7 linked regions of the Homo sapiens genome follow. The protein of the gene in region 6 purifies or fractionates together with the protein of the main gene of each other region. This does not show direct contact. Each region holds a gene or a part of one and is shown on either strand. Other genes may lie near its edges.

The links.
Region 1: the proteins of ANO7 (region 6) and ARPC2 purify together in Homo sapiens (affinity purification with mass spectrometry, with the first as the bait; one large-scale study listed by BioGRID). This does not show direct contact.
Region 2: the proteins of ANO7 (region 6) and TIMM44 purify together in Homo sapiens (affinity purification with mass spectrometry, with the first as the bait; one large-scale study listed by BioGRID). This does not show direct contact.
Region 3: the proteins of ANO7 (region 6) and DDX52 purify together in Homo sapiens (affinity purification with mass spectrometry, with the first as the bait; one large-scale study listed by BioGRID). This does not show direct contact.
Region 4: the proteins of ANO7 (region 6) and CS purify together in Homo sapiens (affinity purification with mass spectrometry, with the first as the bait; one large-scale study listed by BioGRID). This does not show direct contact.
Region 5: the proteins of ANO7 (region 6) and THOC5 purify together in Homo sapiens (affinity purification with mass spectrometry, with the first as the bait; one large-scale study listed by BioGRID). This does not show direct contact.
Region 7: the proteins of ANO7 (region 6) and COPG1 purify together in Homo sapiens (affinity purification with mass spectrometry, with the first as the bait; one large-scale study listed by BioGRID). This does not show direct contact.

What each region holds. Positions count from the first base shown.
Region 1 is NC_000002.12:218,223,457-218,227,725, reverse strand, and holds part of ARPC2 (actin-related protein 2/3 complex subunit 2), read right to left. Parts: intron 1,807-4,269; coding exon 1,772-1,806; intron 1-1,771. UniProt on the Homo sapiens protein: Actin-binding component of the Arp2/3 complex, a multiprotein complex that mediates actin polymerization upon stimulation by nucleation-promoting factor (NPF).
Region 2 is NC_000019.10:7,936,809-7,941,077, forward strand, and holds part of TIMM44 (mitochondrial import inner membrane translocase subunit TIM44), read right to left. Parts: intron 1,390-4,269; coding exon 1,219-1,389; intron 1-1,218. UniProt on the Homo sapiens protein: Essential component of the PAM complex, a complex required for the translocation of transit peptide-containing proteins from the inner membrane into the mitochondrial matrix in an ATP-dependent manner.
Region 3 is NC_000017.11:37,636,358-37,640,626, reverse strand, and holds part of DDX52 (probable ATP-dependent RNA helicase DDX52), read left to right. Parts: intron 1-1,058; exon of another isoform or gene 1,059-1,173; intron 1,174-4,269.
Region 4 is NC_000012.12:56,276,181-56,280,449, forward strand, and holds part of CS (citrate synthase, mitochondrial precursor), read right to left. Parts: intron 16-4,269; coding exon 1-15. UniProt on the Homo sapiens protein: Key enzyme of the Krebs tricarboxylic acid cycle which catalyzes the synthesis of citrate from acetyl coenzyme A and oxaloacetate.
Region 5 is NC_000022.11:29,543,174-29,547,442, forward strand, and holds part of THOC5 (THO complex subunit 5), read right to left. Parts: intron 1,431-4,269; coding exon 1,287-1,430; intron 370-1,286; coding exon 256-369; intron 1-255. UniProt on the Homo sapiens protein: Component of the THO subcomplex of the TREX complex which is thought to couple mRNA transcription, processing and nuclear export, and which specifically associates with spliced mRNA and not with unspliced pre-mRNA.
Region 6 is NC_000002.12:241,197,908-241,202,176, reverse strand, and holds part of ANO7 (anoctamin-7), read right to left. Parts: intron 2,890-4,269; coding exon of another isoform or gene 2,862-2,889; coding exon 2,754-2,861; intron 2,089-2,753; coding exon 1,952-2,088; intron 918-1,951; coding exon of another isoform or gene 880-917; coding exon 822-879; intron 1-821. UniProt on the Homo sapiens protein: Has calcium-dependent phospholipid scramblase activity; scrambles phosphatidylserine, phosphatidylcholine and galactosylceramide. Does not exhibit calcium-activated chloride channel (CaCC) activity. May play a role in cell-cell interactions.
Region 7 is NC_000003.12:129,255,751-129,260,019, forward strand, and holds part of COPG1 (coatomer subunit gamma-1), read left to right. Parts: intron 1-317; coding exon 318-404; intron 405-1,719; coding exon 1,720-1,877; intron 1,878-1,976; coding exon 1,977-2,110; intron 2,111-4,269. UniProt on the Homo sapiens protein: The coatomer is a cytosolic protein complex that binds to dilysine motifs and reversibly associates with Golgi non-clathrin-coated vesicles, which further mediate biosynthetic protein transport from the ER, via the Golgi up to the trans Golgi network.

The sequences.
Region 1 (4,269 bases), about 23 Mb from region 6:
CCAGCTACTTGGGAGGCTGAGACAGGAGAATCGCTTGAACCCGGGGGGTGGAGGTTGCAGTGAGCCAAGATCATGCCATTGCACTCCAGCCTGGGCGACAGAGCAAGACGCTGTCTGGAAAAAAAAAAAAAATTAGCCGGGTGTGGTGGTGGAGATCTGTAGTCCCAGCTACTTGAGAGGCGGAGGCAGGAGAATCGCTTGAACTCGGGGAGGTGGAGGCGGCAGTGAGCAGATTATCAACGCCACTGCACTCCAGCCTGGGTGACAGAGTGAGACTCAGTCTCAAAAAAACAAAACAAATATTCAGTCAAGTATTTAAATATTCTCTACTGTCTCAAAAAATTTTAAGCATTGTTGTCTTATTTGAATTAAGATGCAAACAATATCCACACATTGCATTTGGTTATCTTTTGAGTTGCTTCTAATCTATAGGACTCCCCTCTTTTTCGGTTCTATCTTTCTGCAGTACACAGGACTGACTCAGCCTGTGTAATTCCTGAAACTAGGAATAGGTTCCTGAAACTAGAATTAGGTGCTGAGTGCCATCACTTTATGGAGCTGTCATGGGAATCACGAAGGGATATCTGGCAATGCCAGTTAGTAGGAGGGTAAAGGGATGGTGCCTGGCCTCCAGGTAACAGCACTTCAGAGCTGCAAAAGTCTTCCAAGATCATCTTGTCGAGGACTCTTGTTGTAGAAAGGGTGGTTGTATTCCTCTGAGTTCATTCACCTAACAAGTAAATAGTACCAACACCTAATTCTTTATAGGGAACAGAAAGCAGCAACATCTCTCTCTGACTTGATGAACACATCTCTAGCTGTTCATGTTTCCCTACTACTCTAGTGCTAGGCAAACTAAGACTGACAGCTACTTGAAGATAATGTAATATTTCCAAATTAAAAAAAAAACACAACAAAAAAACCTCAGTTTTACCACAAAATTAAATCCAAACTTCTAATTTATCAGCAGGTAACTTTATATTGTCAGTCATCAGTGGATTAAATACATGAAATGGTCATCTATTATAAAGAGCTCAAAAAGACCTGATGAGGGACAGTATCCAAAATGTCAAAGCTTTTTTTTTTTTTTTTTTTTTTTGAGATGGAGTCTCACTGTCGCCCAGGCTGGAGTGCAGTGGCGCGATGTCTGCTCACTGCAAGCTCCGCCTCCTGGGTTCATGCCATTCTCCTGCCTCGGCCTCCGGAGTAGCTGGGACTACAGGTGCCCGCCACCATGCCCAGCTAATTTTTTGTATTTTTAGTACAGACAGGGTTTCATCATGTTAGCCAGGATAGTCTCGATCTCCTGACGTCGTGATCCGCCTGCCGTGGCCTCCCAAAGTGCTGGGATTACATGCATGAGCTACCGCACCCAATCCATGTCAAAGCTTATTTTAGGTACAATTTTCTTTTCTTGTCTCTCTCTTTTTTTTTTTGAGACAGTCTCACTGTATCGCCCAGGCTGGAGTGCAGTGGTGTGATCTCAGCTCACAGCAACTCCTGCCTCCCAGTTCAAGTGATTCTCCTGCCTCAGCCTTCCGAGTAGCTGGGATTACAGGTGCCCACCACCATGCCCGGCTAATTTTTGTATTTTTAGTAGAGGGGGTTTCACCATGTTTGCCAGGCTGTTCTTTAACTCTTGACATCAGGTGATCCACCTGCCTCGGACTCCCAAAGTGCTGGGATTACAGGCATGTGCCACTGCACCCAGCCTATTTCCTATTTTTCATATTGTACCTTCTCTTCAGAGGGCTGAGATAAAGATGCTTACCTGCAAATGTTACTTCTACTGCTTCCGGTTTGTTTCTGTAAACAACAAAAAAGGTCCTCAGTTAAGATGACTGTATTGCTGCTTACCTTCAAAGGGAACTGGAAAGGCACCTGAGCTTCACTTAAGATCAGACCATTCTGTATAAATTTTAGGTTACTGCCAATCAGAGTACACAATTCATTTTCTCATGGACCTGAACCTTTGGACTTGCTTTAAGTAGAGGATAAAAAAGGAAGGTCAGATAAAAAAGGAAGGCCAGCTATAGCTTTTGTTTTTCACCTGCTGTTGAATCTACTGCTTTGGTTGGTGCTCACTTTCAATTCTGAATTTCCTAACAACATGCTATATACCACAAAATGCCATCTTTTGGTCAATGCCTTCCCCACAGGACAGTGGTATTAGGAGTAAAACGTTCAGCAGGAAAATGGCTAAGTATAATGTAGAATGGTTTTAATATGCTTAAAGAGAAAGGATGATTTCGGGCCATAAACAAAACGGCAAGTTCTATTCCACTTCAAAACCCGTCTGTAAGCCTTCCTACTCATCTTTCTTTCTTCCTTTACATCACCAAAGTACTTACCACTCACCTTCAAGAAACCCTCTTTAGTTCTACCCTAGTTTTGTCTTGCTTTGTAAATTCCAGCTCGGAACTTAAAATAGACAGTGTAACACAAAATAACACTATGAAATCACTAAGAATAGTCAGGACATCTGCTTTACAACTTTAGCTTTCTCATCACGCTCATGTTTTGGGACAAATACCCTTACACCTTTGCATTCTCCCCTATCATCAATAAAATGGGGGAATAAAAATGAACCTATTTACCTCATGGAACTACTACATATAACACAAGAACAGACCTGAAGTCCAAAGTAGGAAGCAAATGAAGACTATTGCCTTACCAGCTAGCTACCTGTAAACTCAATGATTCCACTTTGTTTTAGGGGCTAGCAAACAAGATGCGCATGTTTTCACATTTATTTTTGTCTAACTTGCTCAAGACCTCTTAATCAAGTACGTATCTTTCCACGATCTCTGCTCCATTACCTGCGAAAGAAACGAAGACTAAGTTGCTCTCCAGGGATGCTGGGAAATAATGGAATATATAACATGGTTTATGAGTGTTAAAAAGCTGATATAGAAGCCAGACAATACCTTTCAAAAAAACTGGCTTCTATGAAGCATGCTAGCCCTGCTGAAAAATCAACCTATACGAATCATACAAAGCTTCACCTTGCTTCTTCAAAGCCCTATATGTGACTTAGGAAAAGCGCACTGGGTATCTCTACGAATTGAAGTATCAAGTGGGTTTACGGAGAAGCAGAGAGTTCAGAATAGAAGGAAAAAACTAGATGAAAATTTAAATTGCTTCTGAGCCTTCATTTTGAAACTGTAGCCAGGAAACAAAGGCAACGAGTCCAATACCATTCCTCACCTCTAGAAAACAAGAGCAAAGAACAAAAATATGGAAATGTTAATCATGGACCAACTGAATGAAATATTAAGAGGATGACCAATGGGAGGAAGCATGGAAGCATACTTTCCTGGGGAAGGCTGACTGTGCTGAAGAGTCAGGGAGTTTATAAAAGCCCATTATTACATCACTTAGTAAGTTTTTTTTTAACCTTTAGGTTTTAATTCAGCCAAAGAAGGGCTGAGTTCCTCACTCTCCTACTTTGTCAAAAGACCTGAGAAAAACCAACTATAAATAAATAACCTTTGGGCTCCAAGTCATACACACTTTGAGTCTCTAATTTCAAATTTCTCTAGGCATAAAGTATCCTGAGCACAGATCCTTGTGGGAAAAGTTGCTACGATCGATCTTAAGTGGTCTGCTGTCTGACTTAGCAATATTTGTCAAATCACATTCATTAATATTTTAGTTTACTATTTATGGCTAGAAGAGAGAGAATGGCTGCTGAGGAGAGTATTAGGCCAAAGGAGACTTCATGGGAAGTCTTCTGGGAGTTAGAGGTCCGAGAACTCAGTGCCTTAACGATGAGTTTGCTGAGCGTGAAGTATACCATCACAAGATTGCTTCTCAATTCCAAGACCTGGCGTTTGTTATTTTACTTCTGTGGTTTAAAATTACAAAGGAGCGGGAGGAAGACTGGCCCAGGAAAAGTGTTCCACTAAATAGGCCCCCAGAATTAATAGTTACATTATTTACTGTTCTACCAGCTGCTAAAATTTCAGATGCTGGGGGTGAGAAAAAGCAAGTTATTTAGAATTCAGAATTTATTGGCTATGTGACCACAGGCAATGCTCCTCAAATGTCACCGGGCCTCAGGTTCCTCTTCTACAAAATGGGGACAAAACATCTACCTCCCAGGTTGGTGTGAAGACTGAGATGATATATGTCCAGCAGTACAGCAGTCTCCCCTTATCTGTGGGGGATATGTTCCAAGACACCCAGTGGATAAATAAAAGTGTGGATAGCACTGAACTGTAGCAAAGAAACACCAAGGTCACTTTTTTTACTTAAAGGAATCACTTC
Region 2 (4,269 bases), on a different chromosome or scaffold from region 6:
AGATATATAGGGCTGGGCGCACTGGCTCACACCTGTAATCTCAGCACTTTGGAAGGCCAAGGCAGGTGGATCATTTGAGGTCAGGAGTTCAAGGCCAGCCTGGCCAACATGGTGAAACCCTGTCTTTACTAAAAATACAAAAATTAGCTGGGCAGTAGTGGTGTGTGTCTGTAATCCCAGCTACTCGGGAGGCTGAGGCAGGAGAATCGCTTGAGCCTAGGAGGCAGAGGTTGTGTTGAGCCAAAATCGTACCACTGCACTCCAGCCTGGGCAATGGAGTAAGACTCTGCTTCAAAAAACAACAACAACAACAACAACAAATCAGCTGGGTGTGGTGGCGGGCGCCTGTAATCCCAGCTATCCGGGAGGCTGAGGCAGGAGAATCAGGAGCTGGAGGTTGCAGTGAGCCAAGGTCACGCCACTGCACTCCAGCCTGGATGACAGAGCAAGACTCCATCTCATAAAATAAAATAAAATAAAATAAAATACCAGCACCATCACCCAGTTTCCACCAGGCTCCACTCAGAGGGCTACAGCTGGGAGCTCTCAGGAGCGCTGCATCCCATAGCTGGTGTGCATGCGTTGCCTGGGGGCCTGTGAAGATGCGGGCGCTGGCCTGGCAGTTTGGGAGGGTGTGAGCCTCTGCACTGCTCATCCACTCCCAGGAGGAGCCACTGCTGCTGGTCTGGGGACCACGCTTCAAGCTGCACAGAACGCTGCATGGTCTCATGGCAGAACCCAGAGGCCTGGAGACCCGCACCTGTCCCCTGGCTCCCTCTCATTAGTGCATCAGAGCAGTGACCTCACTTCCTCACGAGCCACCCTGCCCCCAACCGTCCAGCCCTGAGCTCCTCTGGCTGTCCCTGGCCTGGAGAAACCCTGGCCCTGGAAACAAACATGTCAACCAAGAAAGGTAAGAAGCAAAGGGGCCCAACGCGGTGGCTCACGCCTGTAATCCCAGCACTTTGGAAGGCTGAGGCGGGCGGATCACTTGAGGTCAGGAGTTCGAGACCAGCCTGGCCAACATGGTGAAACCTCTTCACTACTAAAAATACAAAAATTAGCTGGGCGTGGTGGTGCGCGCCTGTAAGCCCAGCTACTCAGGAGGCTGAGGCAGGGGAATCACTTGAACCTGGGAGGTGGAGGTTGCAGTGAGCCGAGATCGCACCACTACTCTCCAGCCTGGGTGAGGGAAAAAAAAGCAGCAAAGAAACTCACGTATTTCCTTCTGGCCTCCTGGAGCACGTCTGATTCTTCTAGCCTTCTGGCCTCGTCACGGAATTTTTTTATACTTTCTTTCATTTCTTTGTTTTTGGCTAATTCTTGTTTGACATTATCTAGCAAGCCGGACAGAAAGCCTTTTCTGTTTCCAGAAGAATATGATTTGGACTAGAAAGAATGTACAAGAAAAAAAATTTAAAGAACATAGTAGAACATAGAATGAAATGCCCCACAGAGGGACTCAGGGATTTTTTTAAATGTTCTCTTTTCGGTTGATATACATTTAATGATGATTAGCTATCTCTTTTATAATAATCATAAAAAACAAAGAAACAGCAGGTGATAAAAGTGTGGTATATCCAGACAACAGAATATTATTCAGTGCTGAAAAAAAAATGAGCTCTCAGCCACTTTAGGAGGCTGAGGAGGGAGGATTGCTTGAGGTCATGAGTTTTAAGACCAACCTGGGCAACACAGCACCCTATTTAAAAAACAGGCTGGGCGCGGTGGTTCACGCCTGTAATCCCAGTACTTTGGGAGGCTGAGGCGGGCAGATCACCTGAGGTCAGGAGTTCGAGACCAGCCTGGCCAAAATGGTGAAACCTCATCTCTACTAAAAATGCAAAAGTTAGCTGCGCATGGTGGTGTGTGCCTTTAGTCCCAGCTCCTCAGAAGGCTGAGGCACAAGAATTGCTTGAACCCAGGAGGAAGAGGCTGCAGTGAGCCAAGATTATGCCACAGCACTCCAGTCTGGGTGACAGAGCGAGACTCCATCTCAAATAAAATAAAATAAAATAATTTAAAAAACAAGCAAGAAATATGCTCTCAAGCTGTGAAAAGACACAGAGGAACCTTAAATGTATATTGCACTAAGTGAAAGAAGCCAATCTGAAAAGGCTACATACTGTCTGATTCCAACTATAGACCGTTCTGGAAAAGGCAAAACTAAGGGGACAGTAAAAGATCAGTGGTTGCCAGGGGTTTGGTAGGAAGAGGGTGAGATGAGTAGGGGGGAACACAGAAAAATGTTAGGGCAGTGAAACTACTCTTATGATACTGTAATCACAGAGAATGTACACCACCAAGAGGGAACCGGAAGGTAAACCATGCATTTATTAATAATAATGTATCAACATCCTGTCAATTGTGACAGATGCTCCACACTAATGCAGGACGTGAAGAATAGAAAACTGTGTGCCAGATGGGAGAGGAGGGGCATGGCAACTCTTTGGACATTCTGTTGGATTTTTCTGTAAACCTAAAACTGCTCAAAAGATAAAGCCTTGTGAAAGCAAAACAAGGCCGGGCGCAGTGGCTCCTGCCTGTAATCTCAGCACTTTGGGAGGCCAAGGTGGGTGGATCACTTGAGGTCAGGAGTTCCAGACCAGCCTGACCAACATAGTGAAACCCCCGTCTCTACTAAAAATACAAAAATTAGCTGGGCGTGGTGGTGGGTGCCTGTAATGCCAGCTACTCAGGAGGCTGAGGCAGGAGAATCACTTGAACCCAGGAGCCGGAGGTTGCAGTGAGCCAAGATTGTGCCACTGCACTCCAGCCTGGGTGATGGAATGAGACTCCATCTCAAAAAAAAAAAAAAAAAAGCAGGCTGGACACAGTGGCTCATATCTGTAATCCTAGCACTTTGGGAGACCGAGGTGGGCGGATCACTTGAGGCCAGGAGTCCGAGACAAGCCTGGCCAACATGGTGAAACCTTGTCTCTACTAAAAATACAAAAATTAGCCAGGTGTGGCGGCGCCTGCCTGTAGTCCCAGCTACTGAGGCAGAGGCAGGAGAACTGCTTGAACTCGGGAGGTGGAGGTTGCAGTGAGCGGTATCTCGCCCCTGCACTCCAGCCTGGGCGACAGAGTGAGACTCTGTTTCAAAAAAACAACAGAGAAACAGTTTAATGAATGATCATACAATAATCCAATCAGGCGGAAGGGGCCGCCTGTGGTCAACTTTTCCACAGCTGTGTTGGGTATACCAGCTCCAGGTGGGATCCCCCTCCCTGGCTCCTGTCAAGCTACAAGAGAAAGCTGCATCCAGCCTGGTGCTCAGGCCCCGTGGAGTCACACACCTGTGGTCCCAGCTACTCAGAAGGCTGAGGTGGGAGGATCGCTTAAGCCCAGGAGTTCAAGGCTGCAGTGAGCCGTGATAGTGCCACTGCACCCCAGCCTGGGCCACAGAGTGAGACCCTATCTTAAAAAAAAAAAAAAGCCCAGTGCTGCTCCCCAGGACAGGTGGCCAGGCCTCCTGTCAGCAGGCTGCAGTCCCATTCAGATGCCACCCTGGCCAGCCTTTCTCCAGGGGAAACCCAGGTTCTAAGTAAAATCATCCAGGACCACACAACCTTATCGCAGCCCTACCAGAGACTCTTGGGCTACAAACCATGGGAGTGAGTGTGTGGCGGGGGACTAGACAAGAAAGGGAAAGAGTCACAGGTCCTGTCCCACACCCACGATGGCCCCAGGACAGGACTGGAGAGGTAGGTAGCTGCCTCCAAGGAGGCAGCTGAGCTGAGGCTCTGGGCGCAGAGAGAGAGGGAGACAGAATGTACGCGCTGCCCGAATGTACAGGTCTGGGGAAGGGAGTCAGGTTTTGGGCTTCTGTCCTCACGATGCTGAGACACCAACAGAAGCACAGTTGAAGAGGAATGACCAGGAGAAACTGAGGTCTGGTTGTGACAAGGTGACTCTGTACCAATGATCAAAGGGCTATCTTCTAGAAAAGGAAACAGCTATGCTTGGTGAGGTACCCACGGGCAGAGGTCACAGGGAAGTAGAATTCAGTTCAATACAGGGGTCTCTTCCAAGCATTAGAGCCAACATAAAGGGCTATTCTGACAGCACCTTATCCCCTTACGACATCAAGCAAGAGGCAGGTCAAGTGTTTCTGGGACCGAGAAGGCCAGGCACACTGGGATCTGTCATTCTGAAAGCCCCGGACACAGAAGGCCCACCACCGAGATGGTACGAGCCACCTCTACAGCCCCACCCCTCCCTCCTGCCAATGGGATCTGAATTTTCGGGCCTCCCCTGTGTCTGCTG
Region 3 (4,269 bases), on a different chromosome or scaffold from region 6:
ATTTACCTTTTTTTGGTAAACACTTGAGTTATACAATGATGAAAAGTAAAGTTCCTTCCTACTGTTTCTCTCCAGTCCCCTGTTTCTCCACACGCAGCTACTGTTAATCAATTTCTTTTGTATTTTTCTGGGGACACTATTCCTATGTATTTATGCCTGACTCAAAAAAAAACAAATACTCCTCATACTTTGTTTATATACTTTGATTATTTTATATACACTCTGTTGGGAACCTCTGCTACTACCTTCCCCTTTTTTAAAAACAATGTATCTTGGAGGTTGTTTGGAATCAGTAGGAAGTACATTGCCTTGTTCATTTTAACACAGCATTGTATCCCATTGTGTGTATTGCATAATTGATTTAACAAGTTCCTGTGTGATGGATAATTATAGTTTGTTTTCACATTTTTGCTGTTGTAGTTTTGCAGTGTCATTCTACTTATCTTTGCATGTATATGTGAGTATATCTGTCCCATAAATTCTTAGAAGTGGAATTGCAGAGTTAACAAATAGATGTATCCACCAGAAACACTGCATCAGTAGGAAGTACTTTGCCTTGTTCATTGTAACACAGCATAGTAGCCCATCATACATTGTAGGGATGCCCCATGATCAATTTGACATGTTACTGTGTGGGCATTTAGTACATTGTTTGCATGCTTTTGCTGTTAAGTGCTGCAGTAAAAGTCATTCTTCCCTGGCTGCAAGGAAGTTTGATAAAACCTTTACCAATAAGAAAGACACGCCACAAACTTAGGAAAAGGATTCAAATTTTGGGCCACCAGAAATATACAGCTATGTACTGTAACCATTGTGGCAACAAATGTATTTAGGCCGTAGATCTATGATAAATGTGTAGGCATGTATCAATTTTTTTTTTTTTTTTGAGACTGAGTCTCACTCTGTGGCTGGGGCTGGAGTGCAGTGGCGCGATCTTGGCACACTGCAAGCTCTGCCTCCTGGGTTCACGCCATTCTGCTGCCTCAGCCTCCCGAGTAGCTGGGACTACAGGTGCCCGACACCACGCCCAGCTAATTTTGTTTTTGTATTTTTATTAGAGACAGGGTTTCACCATGTTAGCCAGTATGGTCTCGATCTCCTGACCTCGTGATTCACCCACCTTGGGCTCCCAAAGTGCTGGGATTACAGATGTGAGCCACCACGCCCAGCCAGGCATGTATCTATTTTTAACTGGAAAATTGAATAGCTTGTGAATTAGTAATGATTTGGGTCATTTAGTACCAACTGTCTCATAAAGGGAACAAAATTTTTTTAAAGTTATTCTACTTTGCGATGCCTTCCAGCAAGGTATGAGACTTTTCTCTTTTTGTAAATTTGTCTCTTCGTGTACGTTGTACCCTTATTGTATTACATTGTTCCCTTATCATATTACGTTCTTCTGTTTCTTCTTAATTTATTAAACCTCATATATTGAGGAAATTAGCTCTATGTCTGCCATATTATGTTTACAAATATGTTTCCAGATTGTCATATGTCACTTGTCTTATTTATTTACTTTTTGGCCTTCTGCGCATTACGTTTTTTTAAAATTCTAGGCTGGGTGCAGTGGCTCACTTCTGTAATCCCAACACTTTGGGAGGCGGAGGCGGGCTGACCACTTGAGGTCGGGAGTTTGAGACCAGCCTGGCCAACATGGTGAAACTCCGTCTCTACTAAAAATATAAAAAAATTAGCCAGATATGGTGGTGCACGCCTGTAATCCCAGCTATTTGGGAGGCTGAGGCAGGAAAATCGCTTGAACCCAGGAGGTGGAGGTTGCAGTGAGCTGAGATCATGCCTCTGCATTCCAGCCTGGGTGACAGAGCAAGACTCTGTCTCAAAAAAAAAAAAAAAAAGAAAAAAAACAACTTCCATGTTTTCTTATTTGTAGTTTCAATTTGTTATATTAAAATCTTTGACCCTGTGAAATTTTATTTGGTATAAGGAGTGAATAGGGAACTAAAATTTTTTTCAGATGTCTGAATAATTGTCTTAATAACATAATTGTCTTAATACCATATGTTGGTGTTTTATCTTATGTTGACTAATTGTCTTAATACCATATGTTGATAATCCGTGTTTTCTCTATTGGACTTTAACGCAACTTTAATTGTATACTTATTTTCCATATACATTCAAGTCTGTCTCTGGACCTCTTCTATTCTGTTTCTGTATTTGTACACCAATACTAGCTTGTTTTAAATACTATGGCCTTATATGTTATAAAATCCAGTAGAGTGGAGAGGCATACCAATATTTTAGGCAACTCAATGTTTTCTCCCTACAGTGATCTACAGAATCATTGCAATCCCAATTAGAATTCTAGCAGAATTTTTTTTGTAGAAATTTCTACTAAAGCTTTGGCTAACTTTCTTCAGACACTCTCATAATAAGCAGATACTACTCTTTGGCCTTCCAGAAAGTCAACAAGTGAAGTGCCTTGAGCATCCAAAAAACCTGTTGCTGTTGCCTTTGCTCTTGACTGGTCAACTTTTGCTTTGACTGGACCACTTCCACCTCTTGGTAGCCATTGGTTTAATTGTGCTTTGTCTTTATGATCAAACTGGTAAAACCATGTTTCATCTTCTGTTACAGTTCTTCAAAGAAATGCTTTAGGACCTTGATTCCACTTGTTTAAAATTTCTTTTGAAATCTCTGCTCTTGTCTGCAGCTGATTTGGGAGCAGTGGTTTTGGCACCCATCATATGGAAAATTTGCTCAACTAATTTTTCATTAAGAATTGGTGGGAAGAAGGCTGGGCGTGGTGGCTCATGCTTGTAATCCCAGCACTTTGGGATGCCGAGGTGGGTGGATCACCTGAGGTTAGGAGTTCGAAACCAGCCTGGCCAACATGGTGAAATCCCGTCTCTACTAAAAATACAAAATTAGCCGGGCGTGGTGGCGCATGCCTATAATCTCAGCTACCTGGGAGGCTGAGGCAGGAGAATCGCTTGAACCTGGGAGGCAGAGGTTGCAGTGAGCCGAGATCACGCCATTGCACTCCAGCCTGGGCAACAAGAGTGAAACTCGGTCTCAAAAACAAACAACAAAACAAAGAATTGGTAGGGAGGCCAGGAGCAGTGGCTCACCTATAATGCCAGTGCTTTGGGAAGCTGAGGTAGGAGGATCAGTTGAGGCCAGGAATTTTGAGACCAGCTTGGGCAACATAGCAAGACTCCATCTATACAAAAAATAGGGCCAGGAGCAGTGGCTCATGCCTATAATCCCAGTACTTTGGGAGGCTGAGGTGGGTGGATCACCTGAGGTTAGGAGTTCGAAACCAGCCTGGCCAACATGGTGAAACCCCGTCTCTACTAAAAATACAAAATTAGCCGGACGTGGTGGCGCATGCCTGTAATCTCACCTACCTGGGAGGCTAAGGCAGGAGAATCACTTGAACCTGGGAGGCGGAGGTTGCAGTGAGCCGAAGCCGAGATCACACCACTGCACTCCAGCCTGGGTGACACAGTAAGACTCCAAAAAGAAAAAAAAAAATTAGCTGCACGTGGTAGCACATGTCTGTAGTCCCAGCTACTTGGGAGGCTGAGACAGGAGGATTGCTTTAGCCCAAGAGTGTGAGGTTACAGTGAGCTGTGATCATGCCTGTATACTCTAGCCTGGCTGACAGAACAAAACCCTATCTTGAAAAAAATATATATGTGGTGTAAGCCAAACCATATATATATATTTGGGATTACAAGCATGAGCTTGTAATTGGTTATATACACTCAGATGTCTGTGGTGTTGGCTATTGTTTCTGCTGTTAATCAACAGTCCTCTTCAATTAGGGCATGAACAAGATGAATTTTTTCCTTATAAATTGATGCGGGTGGTCTGCTGCTACAGACTTCCATCTTCAATATTATCTTGTTCCTTCTTAAAACAAGTTATCCATTTGTAAACAGGTGATTTCTTTGTCCCCATAAACTTTTCATAAAGCATCAGTGATTTCACTATTCTTCTACCGAAGCTTCACTGTAAATTTGGAGTTTGTTCTTGCTTCAGTTTTAAGCAGAATTCATGTTGCTGTTTTCAAACTGCTGTCTTATCCTTCTTAGTGTCTCAGACTAGATCTAGTTCACCCGTATTGTAACAAGTTGGTATGAGTTTATTTTGGTGCAAAAAATTTTGAAATTTTTGCATAGTTTCTTCATAATACGGATTTTCCATGAACTTTTTGAAGACCCCCTTATATATAGATCAGTGAAACAGAACAGCTAGTCCACAAACCCATGCATATATGGTCAATTAGTTCTCAACAGAGGTAAT
Region 4 (4,269 bases), on a different chromosome or scaffold from region 6:
GTCTTCATAAATCAACTGACAGAAGAGGAGCAAGATGGAGAAAAAAAAAGGAATTATCAGCAAAGAAGAATTAGGCAGGGATATCGTCTGTCCTCCATGAATTGGGGCTATTTGGGTTGATGGTTAGTTATATGATGGGTTGTTATATATTGAGTATGTTTGAAAGTAGAGAATAACAATCATAACCATTTCACTGAATAACTATTATGACCCAGGCACTAAGTGATTTGTAATACTATCTAATGTACACTAAAACATTATTCCCAATGCTTACTACTACAAAGTATATAATGACTGCCATTTTAAAGATGAGTAAACTAAGGCTCATAGTATTAGGTTAAATGCTAAAGTCAAGTTTGAACTCTGATATGGTTTTCTGAGACAGAGTTTCACTCTTGTTGCCCAGGCTGGAGTGCAATGGCGCAATCTTAGCTCACTGCAACCTCCGCCTCCCAAGTTCAAGTGATTCTCCTGCCTCAGCCTCCTGAGTAGCTGGGATTACAGGCATGTGCCACCATACCCGGCTAATTTTGTATTTTTAGTAGAGACGGGGTTTCTCCATGTTGGTTAGGCTAGTCTAGAAACTCCCGACCTCAGGTGATCTGCCTGCCTTGGCCTCCCAAAGTGCTGGGATTATAGGTGTGAGCCACCATGCCTGGCCCTCTGATATGTTTAATCATGATCTTTTTCACTACACCATGACTTGACGTTCAATGTGTTAAGACAGCAGGTTTTACAGCCAGACACGGCAGCTCATGCCTATAATGCCAGCACTTTGGGAGGCTGAGGCTGGCAGATCATTTGAGGTCAGGAGTTCAAGACCAGCCTGGCCAACATGGTGAAACCTGGTCTCTTCTAAAAACACAAAAAATCAGCCAGGCGTGGTGTGGGCCGGCGCCTATAATCCCAGCTACTCGGGAGGCTGAGGCAGGAGAATTGCTTGAACCCGGGAGGTGGAGGTTGCAGTGAGCCGAGATAGTGCCACTGCACTCCAGCCTGGACCACAGAGCGAGACTCTGTCTAAAAAAAAAAAAAGGGGTCGGGCACAGTGGCTCATGCCTGTAATCCCAGCACTTTCGGAGGCCGAGGCAGGCAGATCATGAGGTCAGGAGATCGAGACCATCCTGGCTAACACGGTGAAACCCCGTCTCTACTAAAAATACAAAAAATTAGCCAGGCGTGGTGGTGGGCGCCTGTAGTCCCAGCTACTCGGGAGGCTGAGGCAGGAGAATGGCGTGAATCTGGCAGGTGGAGCTTGCAGTGAGCCAAGATCGTGCCACTGTACTCCAGCCTGGGCGACAGAGTGAGACTCCGTCTCAAAAAATAAAAAAAAAAGACACTAGGTTTTAATAATGAATTCTATGTTCCATCTTTCAAAGAAAATTCACTGTATGTGCCAAGGATCAAACAGTGATATGCAATTGTTATTTAATAACAAAGACTTCCATTCTTTTTTTTTTTTTTTTTTGAGATGGATTCTCGCTCTGTCGCCGAGGCTGGAGTACAGTGGCGCGATCTCGGCTCACTGCAAGCTCCGCCTCCCGGGTTCACGCCATTCTCCTGCCTCAGCCTCCTGAGTAGCTGAGATTACAGGATGCACCACCATGCCTGGCTTAATTTTGTATTTTTAGTAGAGGGGGGTTTCACCATGTTGGTCAGGTTAGTCTTGAACTCCCGACCTCAGGTGATTTGCCCACCTTGGCCCCTCAAAGTTCTGGGATTACAGGAGTGAGCCACCGCACCCGGCCGAGGCTTCCATTCTTTAAGCACTTACTATGCAACAGGTACTGTGCTATCTATTTGCAGTATTACTTTTTCTTTTCTTACAATAATCCTGTAAGGTAACATATACCTCTTTTTATAAATGAGGAAATTGGGGCTTAGCTAAGTTAACTTGCACAAGGTCACCCATGTAGCCAAGAAGCGTTACCTAGCTTACATTATTAACTCATGCCACTTTTATTTTTTGAGACGGAGTCTCACCCTGTCGCCCAGGCTGGAGTGCAATGGTGCGATCTCAGCTCACTGCAACCTCCGCCTCCGGGGTTCAAGCGATTCTTGTGCCTTGGCCTTCTGAGTAGCTGGGATTACAGGCGTGCGCCACCATGCCTAATTTTTTGTATCTTTAGTAGAGATGGGGTTTCACCATATTGGCCAGGCCGGTCTCAAACTCCTGACCTCAGGTTATCCACCTTCCTCGGCCTCCCAAAGTGCTGAGATTACAGGCGTGAGCCACTGCACCCAGCCCATGTCACTTTTTAAAAAGTTGATAAACAGGCCAAGCACGGTGGCTCACACCTGTAATCCCAGAACTTTGGGAGGCTGAGGAGCGCGGATCAAGAGGTCAACAGATCAAGACCATCCTGGCCAACAAGGCAAAACCCCATCTCTACTAAAAATACAAAAATTAGATGGGCGTGGTGGCTTGCACCTGTGGTCCCAGCTACTCGGGAGGCCAAGGCAGGAAAATTGCTTGAACCTGGGAGGCGGAGGTTGCAGTGAGCCGAGGTCGTGCCACTGCACTGCAGCCTGAGCGACAGAGACTCTGTCTCGGAAAAAAAAAAAAAAAGTTGGTAAATAAAAAGCATATATTTTTGGTTTATTTTATTTTGAGACAAAGTCTCGCTCTGTCACCCAGGCTGGAGTGTAGTGGTGCTATCTTGGCTCACTGCAACCTCTGCCTCCTAGGTTCAAGCGATTCTCCCACCTCGGCCTCCTGAGTAGTTGGGATTACAGGTGTGCACCAGGACGCTCAGCTAATTTTTGTATTATTTTGTAGAGATGGGGTTTCGCCATGTTGGCCAGACTGGTCTTGAACTCCTGACCTCAAGTGATCTGCCTGCCTTGGCCTCCCAAAGTGCTGGGATTACAAGCATGAGTCCCCACGCCTGGCCTACTAGCAAAACTTGATCTGTCAGCTACTTCACAAATTTGACTAAATTCAACAGCTTAAGGCTACTTCACAATTAAACAGCTGGTTGCATCAGAGCAATCAATCTCCTTGTTCTGAGTGACCTTAAGTCAATTAGAGGCCTAGAAGCTAGTTAAACTCTTTCAACTCAAGAGATTACACTATTCATCTAGAGTTAATGGAAATTATTATAGAAGAAATGTTCTGTGCAGAAGATCATCCTCTTAAGGTATATGTAAAAACAACTCCTTAAAAGCTCAAGAAGGCTGGGCACCATGGCTCACTCCTATAATCCCCAGCACTTTGTGAGGCCGAGGCAGGCAGATCACAAGGTCAGGAGTTCAAGATCAGCCTGGCCAACACAGTGAAACCCCGTCTCTATTAAAAACACAAGGCCAGGCGCGGTGGCTCACGCCTGTAATCCCAGCACTTTTGGAGGCTGAGGCGGGTGGATCACGAGGTCAGGAGATCGAGACAATCCTGGCTAACACGGTGAAACCCCGACTCTACTAAAAATACAAAAAATTAGCCAGGCATGGTGGCGGGTGCCTGTAGTCCCAACTACTCGGGAGGCTGAGGCAGGAGAATTGCTTGAACCAGGGAGGCGGAGCTTGCAATCAGCTGAGATCGCACCACTGCACTCCAGCCTGGGCAACAGAGCGAGACTCCATCTCAAAAAAAAAACCAAAAAAAAACAAAACAAAAGCAAAAAAGCAAAAACCAAAAATTAGCCAGGCGTGGTGGTGCGCACCTGTAGTCCCAGCTACCGGGGAGGCTGAGGCAGGAGAATCGCTTGAACCCAGGAGGCAGAGGTTGTGGTGAGCTGAGATTGTGTCACTGCACTCCAGCCTGGGCAACAGAGCGAGACTCCATCTCAAAAAACAAAACAAAACAAACAAACAAAAAGGCCCAGGGTGGTGGCTCACGCCTATAATCCCAGCACTTTGGGGAAGAGGTGGGCGAATCACCTGAGGTCAGGAGTTCTGGACCAGCCGTTCTAGACCAGCCTAGCCAACATGGTGAAACTCTATTAAAAAGACAAGGCCAGGCGTGGTGGCTTAAGCCTGTAATCCCAGCACTTTGGGAGGCCGAGGTGGGCAGATCACGAGGTCAGAGGTTCGAGACCAGCCTGGCCAACATAGTGAAACCCTGTCTCTACTAAAAATACAAAAAGTTAGCTGGGTGTGGTGGTGTGCGCCTGTAATCCTAACTACTCGGGAGGCTGAGGCAGGAGAATTGTGTGAACCCAGGAGGTGGAGGTTGCAGTGAGCTGAGATCGTGCCATTGCACTCCAACCTGGGTGACAGTGCAAGACACCGTCTCCCAAAAAAAACAAAAAAAAAAAACAAAAAAATTAG
Region 5 (4,269 bases), on a different chromosome or scaffold from region 6:
TCTCTACTAAAAAATACAAAAATTAGCCAGGCATGGTGGTGGGAGGTGCCTGTAATCCCAGCTACTTAGGAGGCTGAGGCAGGAGAATCGCTTGAAGCTGGGAGGCAGAGGATGTGGTGAGCTGAGATCGTGCCACTGCACTCTAGCCTGGGGGACAGAACGAGACTCTGTCTCAAAAAAAAAAAAAAAAAAAAAAAAAGAAGGGGATGGGGAGGAGGAAGGAGGAAGGTTAAAATTAAACCTTTTAACTACTACCTCGTGGGTCTGATCTCTTCCTTTCTTCAACCTGATGTGGGCTAATCGGTTAAGCTTCTTTAGAGTCATGAAATGCACACAGCTCTGGATCCTCCGTTCTTCTATTTCTATTGCCTGTGGGCAAAGAAAACAGTAAAGCCCACTGACGACAGGGCTAGCTCAGCTTCCTTCAGTCCTTCACCACTGACCCATCCTCATCTGGGGCCAAAAACGGCACCGGAGGGAGCTCAGAACCATGAGAAGGGTCATGAAGAAAATAAGAGGATGATTGTATAAGGAAAATGATTAAGAATCTCGGGCAAAAAAAAGTAATTTCTGCTTGGACTAGAGTAACAGGAATTGAAGATGGAATAAGGGCAGCAAAGGCACAATCTATCTCTACAGATCCTACACAGAGATCCCAGCAATAGTAACATCTTGTCATAAAATTTGACCTCTATAAATAACATTACAGGATAACTTAAATGGAAAATAACAGAATTATAGCCATAAAGCTTGGCTAGAATAGATTGAATGCAATAATTCTAACAAAACTTGTCAGCATAAGCACAAATACGTGAGATTCCTGGGGGAAAAAATGGATTTTAAAAAACTTATCTATCGAGTTTTTAGTCACATTGTTTAATTTCTCTGCCCCTAAAACCTCATTTATTCATTTACTATTAATGATAATTTCATTTTTGGTATCTACAATTTACTTGTACACATCCATCTTTGTATCAAGCAAATGTATAAGTACCATCATTTCTCAACACCTAGCAAAATGCCTGGCACTTAATAAATATTAATTGGATGAATGATCAAATTAGTAGGGAAAAAATTAATTATCCTGTACTTTCATTCCTGTAATTGGTGACTGAATGGTGATAAGAAGTTCCAATAAATTCACAGGTTTTGGGAGCCCTCAGGCTCCAATCACCTGATCATGGCTAGGACAGAAGATCAAGATCAGGAAGGGCCCTGGTAGGTGCAAAAACAGCCTCATCTATGTAAACCCACCAGGTTCACGGCCACCTGGTCCCACTCCTTACCACATCCTTGCCACCCCTGCTCTTCAGGTCTTGGATCTCAGCCATCAGCCTCTGTAGCTCCTGGCAGGTGTACTTGTATAACTCATAGTCTCTGCCAGGGTCCCGCAGATCCACCTCGGCCTCCTCACTGTAGTATTTACCTTCCTGTAGAGGTAAGGATAAAGGCTCTGTGTGCATGGGGTAAAAGTCTCCCTGCTGGGATCAGGGACACTTGGCTGACATCTCCTTTTAGATAAAAACAGTAACAATGAAGCCTCAGTCAGGTCTCTAAAAGATCTGGTCCTTAAATTAAATGCTTTTCTTCTCTTCAAAATAGAAACCTCTTTTGCTTTCTGATTGCAGAGTAATGCATGCCTGGTATCAAAGATTCAGAATATACAGAGGAGTATCAAAAAGAAAATGGAAAAATTGCCTATAATTTCGCCTCTCAGTCCGAAACTGAGTGAAGATTGTGGATAAATAAACATTTTATTTGTAAACAAAACGGGATCATACTGTCCGTGCTGTTAAGTGCAACTTCCCATCTGCATTAGTCCATTTTCACGCTGCCAATAAAGACACACCTGAAACTGGGAACAAAAAGAGGTTTAATTGGACTTACAGTCCCACATAGCTGGGGAGGCCTCAGAATCATGGCGAGAGGTGAAAGGCACTTCTTATGTGGCGGCGGCAAGAGAAAAATGAGGAGGAAGCAAAAGCAGAAACCCCTTATAAACCCATCAGATGTCGTGAGACTTATTCACTATCATGAGAATAGCACGGGAAAGACTGGCCCCCATGATGCAATTACCTCCCTCTGGGTCCCTCCCACAACATGTGGCAATTCTGGGAAATACAATTCAAGTTGAGATTTAAATCCCAAACCATATCATTCCGCCCCTGGCCCCTCCGAATCTCATGTCCTCACATTTCAAAACCAATCATGCCTTCCCAACAGTCGCCCAAAGTCTTAACTCATTTCAGCATTAACCCAAAAGTCCATAGTCCAAAATCTCATCTGAGACAAGGCAAGCCCCTTCCGCCTATGAGCCTGTAAAATCAAAAGCAAGCTAGTTACTTCGTAGATACAGTGGGGGTAAATATAGCCATTCCAAATGGGAGAAATTGGCCAAAACAAAGGCGTTACAGGGCCCATGCAAGACCAAAATCCAGTAGGGCAGTGAAATTTTAAAGCTCCAAAATTATCTCCTTTGACTCCAGGTCTCACATCCAGGTCAAGCTGATGCAAAAGGTGGCTTCCCATGGTCTTGGGCAGCTCCACCCCTGTGGCTTTGCAGGGTACAGTCTCCCTCCCTCCTGGCTGCTTTCATGGGCTGGCATTGAGTGTCTGCAGCTTTTTCAGGTGCATGGTGCAAGCCGTTCGTGGATCTACCATTCTAGGGTCTGAAGGGACGGTGGCCCTCTTCTCACAGCTCTACTAGGCAGTGCCTCAGTAGGGACTGTGTGGGGGCTCTGACCCCACATTTCCCTTCCACACTGCCCTAGCAGGGGTTCTCCATGAGCGCGCCAGCAGCAAACTTTTGCCTGGGCATCCAGGTGTTTCCGTACATCTTCTGAAATCCAGGCGGAGGTTCCCAAACCTCAATTCTTGACTTCTGTGCACCCACAGGCTTAACACCACTTGGAAGCTGCCAAAGCTTGGGGCTTCCACCCTCTGAGCCACAGGCCAAGCTCTAGATTGGCCCCTTTCAGCCATGCCTGGACTGGCTGGGACACAGGGCACCAAGTCCCTAGGCTGCATATAGCACAGGGACCCTGGGCCTGGCCCAGAAAACCACTTTTTCCTCCTGGGCCTCTGGGCCTGTGAGGGAAGGGGCTGCCGTGAGGTCTCTGACATGGCCTGGAGACGCTTTCCCCATGGTGTTAATCCCCCACGGGGATTAACATTAGGCTCCTTGCTACTTATGCAAATTTCTGCAACCAACTTGAATTTCTCCGCAAAAAATGGGTTTTTCTTTCCTTTTTTTATTTTTTATTTTTATTTTTTGAGACAGAGTCTCGGTCTTGTCGCCCAGGCTGGAGTGCAGTGGCATGATCTCAGTTCACTGCAACCTCTGCCTCCCAGGTTCAGGCAATTCTCCTGCCTCAGGCTTGGAGATTACAGTGGGTAGCTGGGATTACAGGCACCTGCCACCAGGCCCGGCTAATTTCTGTATTTTTAGTAGAGATGGGGTTTCACCATGTTGCCCAGGCTGGTCTCGAACTTCTGACCTCAAGTGATCCACCCAGCTCGGCCTCCCAAAGTGCTGGGATTACAAGCGTGAGCCACCGTGCCCAGCCGGGTTTTTCTTTTCTACTGTGTCATCAGGCTACAAATTTTCCAAACTTTTATGCTCTGTTTTCCTTTTAAAATGGAATGCTTTTAACAGTACCCAAGTCACTTCTTTTTTTTTTTTTTGAGACAAGGTCTTGCTCTTGTTGCTCAGGCTGGAGTGCAATGGCGCAATCTCAGCTCACTGCAACTTCTGCCTCCCGGGTTCAAGCGATTCTCCTGCCTCAGCCTCCCAAGTAGCTGGGATTACAGGGGCCCACCACCATGTCTGGCTAATTTTTATTGTATTTTTAGTAGAGATAGGGTTTTGCCATGTTGGCCAGGCTGGTCTCAAACTCCTGACCTCAAGTGGTTCACCTGCCTCGGCCTCCCAAAGTGCTAGGATTATAGGCGTGAGCCACTGCACATGGCCCTGTCACCTTTTGAATGGTTTGCTACTTAGAAATTTCCTCCACCAGATACCCTAAATCCTCTCTCTCAAGTTCAAAGTTCCACAAATCTCTAAGGCAGGGGCAAATGTTTTCAGTCTCTTTGCTAAAACACAAGAGTCACCTTTGCTGCAGTTTCCAATAAGTTCCTCATCTCCATCTGAGACCACCTCAGGCTGGACCTTATTGTTCATATCATTATCAACTTTTTTTTTTTTCTTTGAGATGGAGTCTCACTCTGTCACCCAGGCTGGAGTGCAGTGGCATGATCTTGGCTCACTGC
Region 6 (4,269 bases):
GATGGCGCAGGTCACTTGTCACGTGATAGCAGAACAGGGAAGTCCTAGCTAGCCTGTCTTTAGGCCAAGGCCATGGACGGCCTCCCTCAGCCTTCTGGTGACAATAGCGATCTGATGGAAAGGCTTGGGACTTTGTGTCACCACCGCACATGCACATGCAGGACGCCCCTGTGCCAGGGTAGTGCTCATTCTCCCACTGTGCAGGCTCAGAGTCCTTGACCAGAGCCACACGGCATGTGGGAGTCGAGTCTGCACCTGAAGCTGGGCCCCTGCCTGGCCGTGCGCAGCCCACTCTGGACCTGCACCCTGGGTGACGGTGAACACTGCAGCCTGGCAGCTGTGTCCAGGGTGTGCCCTGCCCCCTACCTGGGCAGCCACGTGACTGTGTGCCCTGTGGTGGTCAGCAGGGCCTCTCTTGGGTAGGCCTCAGGAACAGGCCTCCTGCCGGGTGCCTTGGGCCTGCCCCGCCTGGGGCCACCCTTCCTCCGACGCTGCAGGGCAGGTCTGCTCCCAGCCGGCAGGACCCACCCTGCCTGGGGCTAGTCTCGGCTGTCCCACATGTCCATAGATCCAATATCTATTTTGAGCCCTGGGGTCCCGGAGGGGAACTGGGCCCTTCCCCACCCCTTCCCAATCCCAGGTCATGGCCTGCCCTGTGTAGCGAGGTGAGGTCAGCCTCTAAAGTTTCCAAAGCCTCCGGGCTCCAGGCCTCGGCCCTCTGGTCTCAAGCAGGCCTTTCTGCATCCATGGAGGCTGGGGGCTGGCAGGATCCTCAGAGCCAGGTCAGGGTTTGGGGCCCGCGGCAGGGAACCCCCACTCACAATTTGGTGCCTCTTGGTGCTTGTGAAGAAGGTGTCCTGGTTGTCACTCCCGAGGAAGCTGTGGGCATGTGAACAGTGCAGAAGGTTTGGAGGAAGCTGTGGGCATGTGAACGGTGCAGAAGGTTTGGAGGAAGCTGCGGGCATGTGAACGGTGCAGAAGGTTTGGGGCCCGGGTGCTGGCGCGCACGCAGAAGCACAGGCCTGCGGACACAGCCCTCGCCCCAGGAGAAGCAGCTGGCTCCCCGGCAGGTCAGCAGCTCCCGATTATGCCTTTTCACATCCCCAGGAACAGGAGGCCACAGCAGGCCCCCAGATACCCAGAACCCCTCACCACACACAGGGTGGGGGGAAGCAAACTGTGGTTGGGCACAGGGCAGGGCGGTGTAGAGAGGGCCAGGCTGGCCAGGGAGCCCCATCCCGTGTGCCGCCCTGAAGCTCCGTCATGGGGCCGAGGGTGCTCGTGGGCAGTGCGGACAGTGACTGGGTAGGGGCCCTCCCTGGGAAACCAGAATCTTGGGAAGCCATAGGTGGGGCAACACGGAGTGAGGCTGAATTTCCCACCAGCCCCAAAAGGAGGCATCCCGTGTGGCAGAAAGGCCGCCTTCAGCACTGGTTCCCCGACAGTGGTCCCTGCCACTTCTGGACTCCCCTAGTCTGTAGGCCTGGTGCCATAGTGCAACTGGCTTTGTCCAGTAGTAATGTGTGTGGACGACACACGTGTCGTTTCCAGGAGGGAGCCAGCATGGGCCAAACGTGTCCCTGTATTCTACCTCCACAGTTGGGGACGCTGTGACGAGACAGAGCCTCCATCGCCCGGGCCCTGAGAGACCGTGGTGAGCAGGTACCGCGCCGCCCCACCACACGTGTGCCTGAGCAGGAACTAGACCTCGCGTGTCCAGCCACTGGGCCTTGGGGGGGTTATCTGTCCTGCAGCACAACCGCCCCAGCCCGGCTGACGCAGCGGCATTTGGAAATGCAGACACGCGATAAGCGTGCGCACCTGGCCTCAGATTCCCTGCCGAAAACTCCAGGTGAGGAGAGTCCTGGGGAAGCACCAAGTTCCGCTCACTCATTCACCGACTCCCACTCACTCCTGTTCTTTCCTCCGACTGGCAGGGCCCCTGCCTTACCGTGGCAGCTTGTTCACTCTGAACCGGCAGGAGTAGTACTCGGGGGGTACGTCTGGCACAACCTCCAGCAGGACGTTGGGGATGCCCAGCCATGCCAGCAGGCCGGCCGACCAGTTGGAGGCCTGGTTGGGTAACTCCTGGAAGGAAACGTCAGTGGCTCCTCCCACTCCCGGGAGGAGGGCAAATGCCCCAGGTGGGAGTGGAGGTTGTGCAAGTTTGCAAATTGGGCAATGGGCGAAGGGGCTCCAGCAGAGGGAAGGAGCGTGGTAGACCCTGTGAGGGCCCAGGTGAGCCCCTTCCCCTCTCAGGGCCTCAGGCTCTGAGGCTGCTCAGCTTGTCAATTTGTAGCCCAGAGACCCTCAAGTGGAAAAGGGGTGGGAACTGGTAAGTAGCGTGTCTCCCACCCGCACGCAGTGAGGGTCAGGCCAGCCAGTGCGGTGGGAGGCGGACCCACGTCCAGGCCCATCTTCCTGAGGTCACCTGGAGGCAGCCTTCTCCACCCCATGTTCATAGGCAGGGCCCTCAGCAGGTGGCCTGGCGGGGGTCTGGGCCTGGAGGGGCCAGCTCAGTGCACACGCACTGTTCACCCGACCCCACCTCCCGGGAGCCCACTGTGGGGGATGCCACCACCTGCCCTGTTTGCCCAGTGAGGTTTCTTGGGGCCTGGTGTCGGGGTGGGTAGGAGGAGCCCCTGAGGCCTCTGAGCAGGGAGCCCTCCTGAGGCTGTCGGCACTGGCAGCTGAACGCAGTGTGTGGGGACCGGGACCTCCAGGCCCACCCTGTCCCCATGCCTCCCACGTACCTGCAAGGGCAGCTTCAGGCGCAGGTCTTCGGCGTAGTAGCAGAGCACAGCCCAGGAGGCGCTGAGGAGGGCGTAGTGCACTGTGGTGTTCCCGTCCTGGACGTCCTGCTGTAGGCACCCAGGGCTCCGTGAGAGCCTGAGGGTGCATGTGTGCACGTATGCACATGTGTGTGTCCATTCGCACTCTTAGGAAAAGACTGGCATTTCTGTAGCCGTGGTAACAGCTGACTTTGAATCTCCTATTTGATACATGACACCTACTCCCATGGATACGCCTCTGAAAGCCAACCGGGCCTCGACAGCCCCGTTTGGGAGTCGGCCCCAGCAACAGATTTGCTGCAGACAGCATGCTGTTGGGACCGGCGTCACCTGCAGCCTCCCCTAAGGCTAGGGAGAGCCTTGCCCTGCTGGCCAGACTATGCTGACACACGCCTGCCTCCTGGCTTGAGGGGCAGTGCCTCCAGCTTTTGGTTTTCAACATCGAACGTCGCCTCACCTTTGATCGGTCACCAGGTGTACATGCATGCTGTGCACGGACATGTTTCCGTGTGTATGTGTGTGTACATATAGGTGAGCACTACTGTCTATGTTCACATGTGCACATGTGTGCCAACATGTGACAGGTGCTCCTGGAGCCCGGGGTGGGTTGAGACAGGGATCTGATTCAGTCCAGTGCAGAAGTGCCTCCTCTGAGTGCATAACTGCTTTTCAGCACCATCCCATTTAGTCCAGTGGTCCTCAGCCCTCACAGCCATCTGGGGTTCCCTAAGTGCCAAAGTCCCGGCCCCACCTTGGGCGAAGTGGAACAGAGTCAAGGGCAGACCCTGGCCCCCAGCTGGCCGTGATGTTCTGTGAGAGCTGAGAACTGTCCTGCAGACCGCAGACCAGGCACACTTTGGGCAACGTGCTGGGGCCACCGGCGTCCCCTGCAGTAGTCCCCCCTGCCCTCAACTAAAGGGCAAACCTGCTCGAGTCTGGATGATGACCTTGAAAACTCATGGGACCACGCCACCCAATCAGCTCTGTCCATAATAAAAGCAGGTGTCTTTCACCTCCACCTCCCAGACACTGAAGCAGATCCAAACTCAGGAGTGGGGTGGCTGTTAGCTCTGTGGGCTCCATGTGCCAACACCTGAGAAGGACTGGAAGGAAGCCAGGGAGAGCGGGGCAGGGAGGGGCACCCTGGGGTGGGGTGATGTGGCAAGTAGGGGCTGCTCCCTGTGTGTTCTGGACAAGGAGTAGGCAACGTGGGAATGAGAAGGTGGGTGAGGGAAGAAAGGCACGGAAGGTGGAGGGGAGTCGGACGCAGGACTAACTCAGTCCACAGCAGGTTAAAACCAACCAGGACACCATCATGACCAGGACAGCCAGCCAGGACTGGGGAAAGATGTCTGTCACACACGCCACCAGCAATGGCTAAGTGTCCAGAACAGACAACAAGCTCCTAAGCCTTAATAAGGAAGAGGGAGGTGAGGCCGGGCGTGGTGGCTCATGCCTGTGATCCCGGCACTTTGGG
Region 7 (4,269 bases), on a different chromosome or scaffold from region 6:
GGGATTACAAAGCGTGAGCCACCGCACCTGGCCAAAATAAAGTATTTCTGTATCTGTAAGCCTGAGAGTCCCACCCTTCTCAGTGAAGACAGCCAAGAAACTCTGGGGTGATTGAAGAGAGTCGTGGGTGGATGGTGTTGACCCATGCCTTGGGGAGGGACATTGAGGGTGGGAGCATCCTGAGTTTGTCCATGGTCTCTGAGGACCAGGACAGTGGCGAGCCCCTGAGCTGTGTCTGAGGGAAGACCAGAACTGGGCCCAGAATGTGTGATGGGGACACTTCCTACCTGCCCCTTAATGTGTCCTGTTGCCCACAGCACCTGCTGAAGTGCAGCTTTGACGTGGTCAAGCGCTGGGTGAATGAGGCTCAGGAGGCAGCATCCAGTGATAACATCATGGTCCAGGTGAGATGTGAGCAAGGGAGTGATATTTAAAACACTCAGGCAGGTGGTAAGGCACTGGCCAGTTGGCATGGACACTTGCCACCGAGATCCTTGTGACCCCTGGCCATAGCAGGCTTTAATCCTTTCGTCATTGGATCATGGGAGGAATTAGGAGGTCCTGGGTTAGAGAATCCAGGGTACCACTTGGGGCGCTTGGGTTACAGACTGCTTACCAGCTGGTGCTGAAATATTCAAGTATTTTGATAACCAGCTGAGTATTGTTTTGGAGCATATGATGTGGCAAACTTGGCCAAGGCAGGCAGAGGGCCGCCTAAATTTAGGCCTTTGCCAGCCTGGCTTTGTTATGATGTGTGGAATTATCTTGATGAGGCTTTCATCCACTTTACTCTTCCTCAGTGACCTAGGACAGCCGTTCCTTTTATCTCTCTGGCTCTTGGTTTCCTTGTCTGTAAAATACGAATGAAGGTTACTGCCTCACAAAGCAGCAAGGACGAGCTGAGATCATGCATGTAACATGTGACCCATCTGGGTCATGAGTGCCTATCGGCGCTCCCTGTGTGTTTATGTATTCCCTTTATCTCTCATCTGTCTTCTCATCCTTTGCACGATTCTTGTCTTCAGGGCCAGCTGTGGCCCCTCAAAACACTTATGAGGGCCAGATAAGCTTCCCACATAGAAGGCTTCCACAGCTGCCATATCTTTGCCCCCAAATGTCGCTCCTTTAGGAAACAAAAGAGAGTATCGAGGACAGGAAATAACTATGAGACCTCACATCTTTAGAAAGGGAGTCTCTGGGCTTCTGGCCCTCCAGGCCTAGCTTTGTCAGTACCAGCCAGGAGTCTTTGGGCAAGTCAGCAAAGATTAAACTGTCTACCTTCAGGGTTGTTGTGGGTAATGCAAGATTTCATGGCTAAGGTGTCCCACACAGTGACTTACAAAACATGACAATGCTCAGGGTCTGGCTCCCACCTTCTCTCTCTCATTGTCTGATTGAAAGCACCAGGTCTCCCACATTGCTTTCATCTTTGTGCTGTTTGTTGTCCCTTTCCATATCTGTATTTATGCTACCTGTTAGGGCTCTTGCCGAAGCAGGGGTGGGAACAAGAACCACAGATATACTTCTGTGGTTTGTGAAGCATTGTGTGGAGGGCTGTGTACACAGAGTACCTGGGGCAGTTGTCACAGCCACTCTGTGTGGTAGCTGCTACTGTGCCCATCTTAGAAATGAGAAGGCTGAAGGACCCACCCAGGGCCACACAGCCAGTATACCCAAAAGTCATACATTTGTACTCTGTTGCTGTCTCCTGTCCTATAGTACCACGCACTAGGGCTCCTGTACCATGTGCGTAAGAATGACCGCCTAGCCGTCAATAAGATGATCAGCAAGGTCACACGGCATGGCCTTAAGTCTCCCTTTGCCTACTGCATGATGATCCGGGTGGCCAGCAAGCAGCTGGAAGAGGAGGATGGCAGGTAACGGCTCTCATCTCTCACCAGCTAGATGATGCCTCACTCATCCTACCATGCTGGGCCACCCCCAACGTTTTCTTGCCACCCTATGTTCTTTTGTAGCCGTGACAGCCCACTGTTTGACTTCATCGAGAGCTGCTTGCGCAACAAGCACGAGATGGTGGTGTATGAAGCCGCCTCGGCCATCGTCAATCTGCCAGGCTGCAGTGCCAAAGAGCTGGCCCCGGCTGTGTCAGGTCACTGGGCATTCCTTCACCCAGCCTCACATGTTTATGCTTGCTGGGAACTAGGCCTGGGTTCCCGGGCTAGGAGAAAGAAAGAAAATGCTCTTAACAAGTGTTAAGGAGTCTGTACCTAGGAAGCACCTGCCCCAGACACTATGCTGAGTCCCCACTTGTATCACGTTTTGGTGGTGGGCTGCTGTTAGTTCCATCTGACTGCTGAAGAGGCTGAGGTAAGGCTCGGGTCCACTCTGGAGCCTGTCAGGTTGGCTGGCCACAGGAGGAGGCCTGGTGGAGGAACCCAGGATCTGTGAAACTGGTGCATGTGAAGTGGGGCTGCACTTTTCCAGGTGAAGGAGAGAACAGTATAGAGGGTCGTTCTGAGCCTCCAGCTCCAGCACTGGAGCAGGGCAGCCTGGGTTAGAGCCCTGGCTCTGCCCCTTACCAACTGGGCAAGCCTGGCAAGGCCGCCCATCCTCTCCATGCCTTCCTTTTCTTTTCTCAGATGTGGATGATAGATCATGCCTATTACATAGGGTTATATAGCCAGAAAATGTGTGATCTAGACAAATTGCTTAGAAGGCAACATGTTTGTTGTTTGCCGTTTGCTGTTTTTTGTTTTTGCTTTTTGAGACGGAGTCTCACTATGTCGCCCAGGCTGGAGTGCAGTGGTGCGATCTCAGCTCACTGCAACCTCTGCCTCCCAGGTTCAAGCGATTCTCCTGCCTGAGCCTCCCGAGTAGCTGGGACTACAGGCGCCCACCACCACGCCTGGCTAATTTTTGTATTTTTAGTTGAGATGGGGTTTCACCATATTGGCCAGGCTGTTCTCGAACTCCTGACCTCATGATCCGCCCGCCTCGGCCTCCCAAAGTGCTGGGATTACAGGCGTGAGCCACTGCGCCCAGCCGTTGTTTGCTGTTATTAAGGGGAATCCAGCAGCCTTGAGTCCTGGAGTCTTTGGTGTCTCCTCTGTGCAGGGCCCTGCTCTGGGTGTGGGAATACCCTGTCAGGGAGGAGAAAGCCTATGAAGAGGTGCAAAGTGGTTGGTACTGGAAAGTGGATATGTTGAGAGGCTAGAAAAGGAGAGGTGCTTAGGGTGAGAAACCTGGATTCAAAGTGGAAGAGAAGAGGGGAGTGTTTTAGAACAGGCCCATGGAAAGCAAAGATGTTGTGGCAGGAGAGTTAGATTTGCAGGTTTTGAGAAATGATTGGGCCTCTTGTTTTTCTATTATTCTCTACTATAACAGTGTAAACTTGGTCAGGCAAACAGATGGAGTTCATGTTTGGAGAGAGAAGTCTCCTTTCCTCCTTAGAAATGAAGAAAGAATGAACTGCTGGGCACGGTGGCTCACGCCTGTAATCCCAGCGCTTTGGGAGGCCGAGGCAGGGGGATCACCAGGTCAGGAGTCCGAGGCCAGCCTGACCAACATGGTGAAACCCCATCTCTACTAAAAATACAAAAATTAGCCGGGCGTGGTGGTGCGCATCTGTAATCGCAGCTACTCATGAGGCTGAGGCAGGAGAATCACTTGAACCTGGGAGGTGGAGGTTGCAGTGAGCCGAGATCGCGCCACTGCCCTCCAGCCTGGGCGACAGAGGGAGACTCTATCTCAAAAAAAAAAAAAAAAAAAAGAAATGGAAAAAGAACTAATGAATTCAGTCACTGATTTGGGTATTCATTCATTCTTATTATATCCCCCATATTTCCAGAATAATGAAAGATGTAAATAAAGTAGGGTCTTCAAAATAAGCATTAAGAAAAATTTTTTTTGAGTATTAGAGAATAAAAGCCAAGTTATGAAGAAAGGAACATAGATATTCCAGAAAACAGTAGTCATCTTCGCTCCTATGATTGAGTGCCAAATTTAGCTCTGAGCTTCCGGGCAGCCAGGGCAAGGGAGGGATATGGTACCCGAATGGCTCTCATCTAGTTAAAGGAAATAAACCATTTGTTTAAGAGAGGACTTTGTTCTTCAGCACTTGGTGCCAAGGGGGAAGTTCTGTTGGATCCTGTAGACACAGTAGGAGAGAGGAGTGGAATATTACTTCACAGAGGTTAAGGGCTTAGGCTGCAGGTGCAGGCAGTCTTGGAATTTAATCTTGGTTCTGCCACTTACTGGCTGCCAACCTAAAGTTTGTTTGCTTTCCCCTTTGTGCCTCAGTCTCCTTAT